Regions from separate parts of the Homo sapiens genome. Here all the other regions are linked to region 3. Evidence: fine-mapped QTL for protein levels in blood plasma. A gene starts in region 3. Each other region holds a variant in brackets. All regions are shown on one strand. Distances are from middle to middle.

What was found. PIP is the chance, under the fine-mapping model, that this variant and not a neighbour inherited with it causes the effect. Protein levels are from antibody-based Olink assays in UK Biobank. Linkage for the fine-mapping came from a reference panel and not from the study's own genotypes, which makes the PIPs less certain.
Region 1: its variant is fine-mapped to the plasma level of the CLEC10A protein (UK Biobank, PIP 0.95).
Region 2: its variant is fine-mapped to the plasma level of the CLEC10A protein (UK Biobank, PIP above 0.99).

Annotation. Positions count from the first base shown.
Region 1 is chr17:7,129,860-7,132,617 of GRCh38, forward strand. LOC105371512 (a long non-coding RNA gene) reads left to right here and starts at 1,388. Exons shown (of 3, transcript XR_934191.3): 1 at 1,388-1,469. RefSeq lists an enhancer at 1,099-1,636. The variant T/C (reference allele first, on the strand shown) is at 1,403.
Region 2 is chr17:7,119,986-7,122,743 of GRCh38, forward strand. No RefSeq gene overlaps it. Among named protein-coding and RNA genes, the nearest start is that of ASGR2, 6.5 kb to the left of the region's middle. RefSeq lists a silencer at 1,857-1,956. The variant G/A (reference allele first, on the strand shown) is at 1,558.
Region 3 is chr17:7,079,019-7,081,776 of GRCh38, forward strand. CLEC10A (C-type lectin domain containing 10A) reads right to left here and starts at 1,233. Exons shown (of 9, transcript NM_001330070.2): 1 at 1,034-1,233.

The sequences.
Region 1 (2,758 bases), 51 kb after region 3:
CTTTGTGCCCCTCTCCCTGTCTGGACTGCCAGCTCCCTGACCTCAGGAACTACCTTACTCACCACTCAATGTCCAAGCCCAGCACCAACCCAGAAAAAAAAAAGAGTCAGACGCATGTAAAAGTGACTCCCTGTGGGAAGCCAGGCAGGGCCTTCAGAATCAAACGTGATCTTGAATTCTGGTTCTGCCACTTACCAGCCATAAGGGAACCTTGGATAAGTGACTCAAGGTTTCTGATATTCAGTTTCTTCAGCTGGAAATGGGTATAATAATACCTGCCTCACTCGGTTCTTGTTGGTATTAAACAGGTTAATGTAAGGCAAAGTGTCTAACACTGAGCCTTTTTTTTTTTTTTTTTTTTTTTTGTATAAGCAAAGCCCTCACATTGTAGGTGCTCAGTGAAAATCAATTCCTTAACTCTCATGGTAGGTACTCAAAGAAAATCAATTACTGGCTGGGCACTGTGGCTCACGCCTGTAATCCCAACACTTTGAGATGCCAAGGTGGGTGGATCACGAGGTCAGGAGATCAAGACCATCCTGGCCAATGTGGTGAAACCCCGTCTCTACTAAAAATACAAAAATTAGCTGGGTGTGGTGATGCGCGCTTGTAATCCTAGCTACTCGGGAGGCTGAGGCAGGAGAGTCGCTTGAACCCGGGAGGCGGAGGTTGCAGTGAGCCGAGATTGTGCCACTGCACTCCAGCCTGGCAACAGAGCAAGACTCCATCTCAAAAAAAAAAAAAAGAAAAAAGAAAAGAAAATCAATTCCTTTACTCATTTTAACTTCCTCCAGTTGCTGCAGAAAAAGCTCTGCTTCCCTCCCCCTGAGCTTCAGGTGCTTGACTTATATTTACTCCCCTGGGGAATGACAGGAGTCAATATGGGCGGGCTGGAGAACCTGGCACCTGAGCCCCAGAGGAAGGCCCCAGCTTCCTGCAGCTCGGGCTGGCGGATGGGAGCAGAAGCATCAGTTCCTGGTTGGGAATTTGGAGACACCAACAATTTGGGGAACTTCAAAAGCAGGAAGCAAAAAAGATGTGAGAGAAAGGGGAAACACCAACCCTCCTAGACAGCCCCCCTCCCCACCCCCAATCACAAAAATGCGGAGCCCAGGAGAGCCAACTCCTGGGAAGGGACGAATTCCCAGTTCCTACCCCGGCCCATCTCCAGCCTGGTCCAGAACTCAGTCCTGAACCCAGCTCCCGGCTCCCACACCTCCATCAGCCCCAACCCCACTAGCAGCCTGTCCCAGGCCCAATTCTAACAAAGACAAGGGGTGGGACCCTGGAGAAAGTGGGGTTCCCCAAATCACGAGAGAATTCCCTGGCCTCTCTGCCATCTGTTTCCACTTCCCCTGGTCTCTGTCTTCCTGTGTTTATCTGCCTCATTCCGTACTTCGGC[T/C]GTTCCCTCCTCCACAGGCTCTCTCTCTGCCTGTCTCTGGCTCATTCACTCACATATTACACAGCAGGTATGTGCTGGGGAAGAGGGAGCAGGCCAGTGAGTGAAAGCAGAGGAGGCAGAGGATGGGGCCAGAGAGGGAGGCAGGGGCTGGATCACGGGGACCTCCAGGGCATGGAAGGCCGGAAGAGTTTTCTTCTCTGTGAAATAGGGAATTATTGATGAGTTAAACAAGGCGACACATAGCCTGATTACATTTTTTAAAGTCACCTTCAGGCTGCTGTATGAGGATGAACCTTTAGGGGTGAGAGTTGGCAGGGGATGTTGTTGCCAAAGTCCCAAAAGAGAGATGACGATGGTGTTTGGGACTGGAGGTGGCTGTGACAACAGTGAGAAGATGTCAGATTAAAAGCAGATCATGTCAGGGTGCGGTGGCTCACGCCTGTAACCCCAGCACTTTGGGAGGCTGAGGTGGGTGGATCCTCTGAGGTCAGGAGTTCAAGACCAGCCTGGCCAACATGGAGAAACCCCATCTCTACTAAAAATACAAAAAAAAAAAAAAATTAGCTGGGCATGGTGGCAGGCGCCTGTAATCACAGCTACACAGGAGGCTGAGGCAGGAGAATCGCTTGAACCCGGGAGGCGGAGGTTGCAGTGAGCCAAGATTGTACCACTGCACTCCAGCCTGGGCGCCAAGAGCGAAGTCTCCGTCTCAAAAAACAAAAGGGTAGATAGTGAATCTTGGAGGAAGAACCATCAACTCAGCACTGGCTGGGGAGGGCCTGTGGGCGAGGAAAGGAAGGCTTCCTGAAGAAGCTTTGTATGCTGCTGAGAAAGTGACAGCAGGGTTAACTGAGCGGGAAGAGGGGGCAGGAATGGGTTAAACGCGCAATGTAGAAAGAGGAACTGAAAGGGCCGGGCGCGGTGGGTCATGCCTGTAATCCCGGCACTTTGGGAGGCCCAGGGAGGCAGATCACTTGAGGTCAGGAGTTCGAGACCAGCCTGGCCAACATGGTGAAACTCCATCTCTACTAAAAATATAAAATTAGCCGGGCGTGGTGGCACGTGCCCGTAATCCCAGTTACTCGGGAGGCTGAGGCAGGAGAATCCCTTGAACCCAGGAGGCGGAGGTTGCAGTGAGCTGAGATCACGTTATTGCACTCTAGCCTGGGCAACAAGAGCAAAACTCCATCTCAAAAAAAAAAAAAAAAAAGAAAGAAAGAAAGAAAGAAAAGAAAAGAAAAAGAGGAACTAAAAAGAGCTCAATTTGGGATAGACGGTGTTTGTGTTTGAGGTCCCTGTTAGACCCTAAGGTGAGATGCCAGGGCAGAAGCTGAATAAACAATCCAGGCAGGAACA
Region 2 (2,758 bases), 41 kb after region 3:
AAAGGATAAGTCTCCAGATTTAGGTATTCTAGTAATAGCCCAGCCGAGCACATTCATTCAAAAATGACCCAAAGCGTGTCACCATGAAATTTCAGAATACCAGGGATAAACAGAAAATTCCAAAAACTACCAGGGGTGGGAGTAAATCACCTACAAAGAAACAAGAATCAGAATGGATTTCATTTTTCAGCTGTTATATTGAACACGAAGAGACAACAGGATGATGCCTTCAAACTTCCAAGGAAAATTTTTTTCAACCTAGAATTGTAGACTCAAATGATCCATGGCACGAGAGGGGAGGCTACAGAACTGTCAGATATTCCAGTTCTCAGACTATTTATCTCCTACTCCCATGTGAGGAATTACCCCAGAAAGTGAGGAAATTATCCAAAAACAACACATGTAGAAGAACATCTCAGTATAAGCCTTTTTCATTATTAGGAAAGAAAATCTTATTCAGCTTTTTCTGTATTTTTTGCCTACAGGCTGACTTTTTTTCTTATAATGCAAACTGGTGAAATTCCAGAACCTGGCCTTGGAAATGCAAGTCACCATAAAGAACATGAGTTTAAGGTCTGGGCATGGTGGCTCTCGCCTGTAATCCCAGCACTTTGGGAGGCCAAGGCGGGCAGATCACCTGAGGTGGGGAATTCAAGATCAGCCTGACCAACATGGAGAAATCCTGTCTCTACTAAAAATACAAAATTAGCTGGGTGTGGTGGTGGGTGCCTGTAATCCCAGCTACTCAGGAAGCTGAGCCAGGAGAATCGCTTGAACCCGGGAGGCAGAGGTTGCGGTGAGCCAAGATTGCGCCATTGCACTCCAGCTTGGGCAACAAGAGCGAAACTCGGTCTTTAAAAAAAAAAAAAAGAACATGAGTTTAAGGAAGCAGTAGAGACTCTCCTATGATAAGCCGTCAAAGTGAGAACGTTTACTAACTCCCCATCTTGTTCTCTCATGTACTGTGGAAACCTAGGTGGGCACTTATAATTCCTGCTGACTTTCGGCCGGGCGTGGTGGCTCACGCCTGTAATCCCAACACTTTGGGAGGCAGAGGTGGGCGGATCACGAGGTCAGGAGATCGAGACCATCCTGGCTAACACGGTGAAACCCTGACTCTACTAGAAATACCAAAAATTAGCCAGGCGTGGTAGCGGGTGTCTGTAGTCCCAGCTACTCGGGAGGCTGAGGCAGGAGAATCACTTGAACCCGGGAGGCAGAGATTGCAGTGAGCCGAGATCGCGCCACTACACTCCAGCCTGGCAGAAAAGAGCCAGACTCTGTCTCAAAAAAAAGAAATTGTTAGCGAAACATCAGGAGTTCAGTCTAAGTCCTGCGGCTTTGCTGCACACAGAAAGCCAATCACTGAGATGATGAGTAGTGCCAAGGAAGAAGGCTTTAAATCAGGTGCTGCAGCCAAAGAGATGGCAGCTGTCTCAAATCCATCTCCTGGACTGACTAAAACCAGGGGTTATATAGCAGGGAAGAAATGTAACAATGTGTCAGAAAACAGGAACTAGGGAGGTGCAAGGAGGCATTTGGTGCGTGATCTGGTGA[G/A]TTTCAGTTCTTCCATACATTTCTTTTTTTTTTCTGAGACGGAGTCTTACTCTGTCACCCAGGCTGGAGTGCAGTGGCACGATCTCAGCTCACCACAACCTCTGCCTCCTGGGTTCAAGCAATTCTCCTGCCTCAGCCTCCTGAGTAGCTGGGATTACAGGCACCCGCCACCACGCCCGGGTAATTTTGTATTTTTAGTAGAGACAGGGTTTTACCTTGTTGGTCAGGCTGGTCTTGAACTCCTGACCTACTATACGTTTTTGAGAGGACTGAAGGTACTTTCCTGAGGAAGGAACTCAAATCAAACAAATATAAGTTTCGTCCGGGCACAGTGGCCCACACCTGTAATCCCAGCACTTTGGGAGGCCAAGGCCGGTGGATCACGAGGTCAGGAGTTCAAGACTAGCCTAACCAACAGGGTGAAACCCCGTCTCTACTAAAAATACAAAGATTAGCCGAGCGTGGTGGTGGGCGCCTGTAATCCCAGCTACTCGGGAGGCTGAGGCAGGAGAATCACTTGAACCTGGGAGGCAGAGGTTGTGGTGAGCCAAGATCACGCCACCCTACTGCAGACTGGGCAACAGAGCAAGACTCCATCTCAAAAAATAAAAAAATAAACATATATATATATATGAGTTTCAAGCTTTAACGGCAGAAGGGTCAAGTTCTATGTTTATCCAAAACTGTCTGTGGAACTATAGGGCCGGTTTAAAAATCAGAAGAGGGGCACTGGCCCTTTCCTCTTCTCCTATGGGCATGATGGAATAACTGGGATTTGTAAGTCTGCTAGAATAACACTTAGCAAATAATTCGAATTAAGTTAACACTCAAGACACTGACTGTGGCTAAGAACGCCACAAAGGAAGTCCTCCTGAGAAAGAAGAATCTTATTTTAGAGAGTTTTTATTTTAAGAAATAGAAAACTGCCCTAAGGAAAACATTGCAAGATTAGAATAACTGGCATATCTCCAGTAAAAGCAAAAGAAACTATGCAAGAAGAGAAATGTTATGACAATAGAGTACTAGGTTCTGCAGGACATAACATTTACATAGACATGTAATGTGAACGTTTCATTTTCGTTTTTTTACTAAAGATGCTGATGTAACTGCATTTGGAAGACAGCAGTGGCTAAGAGCTAATCCTCATCTTGGGAAATAAGCAGTAGAATATTAATAAATCCCCTCTCCACTTTGTCCAATG
Region 3 (2,758 bases):
TGGGGTCGAGTTGAGTTTGGGAGTGAAACTGGAGGGTAACGTTGGAGCTAAACGCATTGCTAGGACTACCCAGTGGGCCAGTTAATCAGGCAGGACTGGAGGTTGTATCTCATGCTAGGATTGGGGTCAGTATGCACGTTGGAGCCATGGATGGAATTGGGGTTAACTTTGGTGGTGAATTTGGAAACAGAATAGAGTCGAGGTTCAATTTTGGCTTTGGGCTGGTGTTAAAATTCAAGTTGATTCTGGGGTTGGGGTTGAAGTAGGAGCTGGGTGGGGGGCGACAGGTGCGGTGGCTCACGCCTATAAATCCCAGCACTTTGGGAGACCGAAGCAGACAGATCACTTTAGGTCAGGAGTTTGAGACCGGCCTGGCCAACATGGTGAAACCCCATCTCTACTAAAAATACAAAAATTAGCTGGGTGTGGTGGTGTGCGCCTGTAATCCCAGCTACTTGGGAGGCTGAGGCAGGAGAATCACTTGAACCCAGGAGGCAGAGGTGGCAGTGAGCCGAGGTTGTGCCGTTGCACTCCAGCCTGGACGACACAGTGAGACTCAGTCTCAAAAAAAAAGAAAATGTAGAAGCTGGGGTTAGTATTGGGATTAGGGCATGGCTGGGCTGAGATGAAGATAAGGCTGGAAATGGGCCACCAATGAGGCTGAGTCTGAGTCTTAGTTTATTTTTATTTTTATTTATTTATTTTTTGAGATGGAATTTCGTTCTTGTCGCCCAGGCTGTTGTGCAACGAGGCCGTCTCGGCTCACTGCAACCTCTGCCTCCTGGGTTCACAAGATTCTCCTGCCTCAGCTCCCGGAGTCTTAGTTTATGACAGGGGATTGTGGCTGCCGTAACCCAATCTAGAATCCAGTGAAGGGAACAGAGTCTCAAATCTCCACGTAGTAATTAAACCCCACACTGCCGCCTTATATTTATTTTCATTTAGTCCCACCCAAGACCCAAAGTCCCCCTCTCCCTGCTTCCTCTGACATCCCCTGTCCCCTGGGTCTCACCGGCACCGGCAGCACCATTACCTGTGGGAGGTCTGGAGGGTGTGATTCCCACGTTGGTTGTGCTGCAAGGACCAGAGGTGGGACGTCACTCAGAGTTGGGAGCGCTGTGTCCTGGAGAGCTGGGGTAGAGGTGACTGGAGTCCTGCTGGTCTTGGGTCTGAAATCCCAGGAGCCCTATCATCTGGGACATCCCATCTCCTCAACTTTAGACAGTAAATGAGAATGAACAGGGATTAGAACACACAGAGACCATGTGTGGGTGGGGAGAGTTGGGTTTGAGGCCAGCTCTGTTCTCCTCCTCCAGGCCATGCCTACTTCCTTTCCTCTTCTCGGAGCTTCCTCATTTTTACCATCTGGGAGCAGGGCTGGATCAGAGGTACAATCTGCTGTTGCTCCTCTACCCTACACTTCCTTTCACTTCCTGCCTCTACATTTCCCAGAATTGTTGGGTCTCCATCATCGCACCTCTGATCCTAGAGAAGCCCAGTCTGTTCTCTTGCTCAATCCTGGCCTGAGTCCCTGGCATCAGCATCCTCTGGGTCCCAGTCATTCGGCTGCTCAGCTGTGGCCTCGCTCGCCTCACTCCACTCGGAAGGAGGGAAGGGGGTGCCAGAGAATAGAACTTCTTGGCCCTAATAGGACGGGAGAAGCCAAGGAAAAGAGCAAATTTTATTGAGTAATCTGTGATAGGATTATGCCAGACATTTACCTTCCACAACCATTCCCCCCAAGCACCTGGGGAGGCATTTTGGATGACGGACTAAAGGCTCAGAGCCCAAGATCACTCACAGCTTGTAAGGAGACAGTTTGGCACCCTGCTCTGGCTCTCAGCACAGGCGCTGTCTTCATGAACAGGATTCCATTTCATCCCATGATCCCTGCTCAACCCCTAAGGGAGCTGCCCTGAATCCACGCGCACATCCCTTTCAGTAGGAAGGAAACTGAGTATCTTACAAGGTGGAGAAGGAGAAGAAATACATTTTAGGTTATATTTTGTATGTACATGGGGTTGTGTTCTGCTATGTGCTTTTTTTTTTTTTTTTTGGAGTTAACAAGCTATCAGGAACATTTCTCCACATCAGTTTATAAAATGTACTTGATCTACCTGCACCTCATTTCATCATAGGCACCGTAATTTATTTATTTAGCATTTCTCTATTGACAGAAATAAATCAGAAATTTAAGTTGTTTCTTTTTCTTTTCTTTTTTATTTTATTTATTTATTTATTTTTTTGAGACAGAGTCTCACTCTGTTGCCCAGGCTGGAGTGCAGTGACACAATCTCGGCTACTGCATCTCCTGGGTTTAAGCGATTCTCCTGCCTCAGCCTCCCGAGTAGCCGAGATTACAGGTCCCGCCACCACACCCAGCTAATTCTTGTATTTTTAGTAGAGAGGGGTTTCACCATATTGGCCAGGCTGGTCTTGACCTCCTGACCTCACATGATCTGCCCGCCTCAGCCTCCCAAAGTGCAGGGATTACAGGCGCGAGCCACCGCACCCGGCCAGGTCGTTGCCAGTTTTGTTTTTATTTGGTATTCGGTATTTTGATTAGTATATGTCGCAGGTTCGGTTTTTGGAAGCCAAGGTTGAGGCTGAATTTGGGGTACAAGCTATTTATTAGGGATTAGCACTTCGAAAAGGAAAGTGGATGAAATGGTGCTGGGCAGAGGGAGAAGCCCAGCACTTTGGAGAGCTTCAACCAAACCAACAGGGAGCTCTGGGTTCAAACAATGCCACCCCCGGG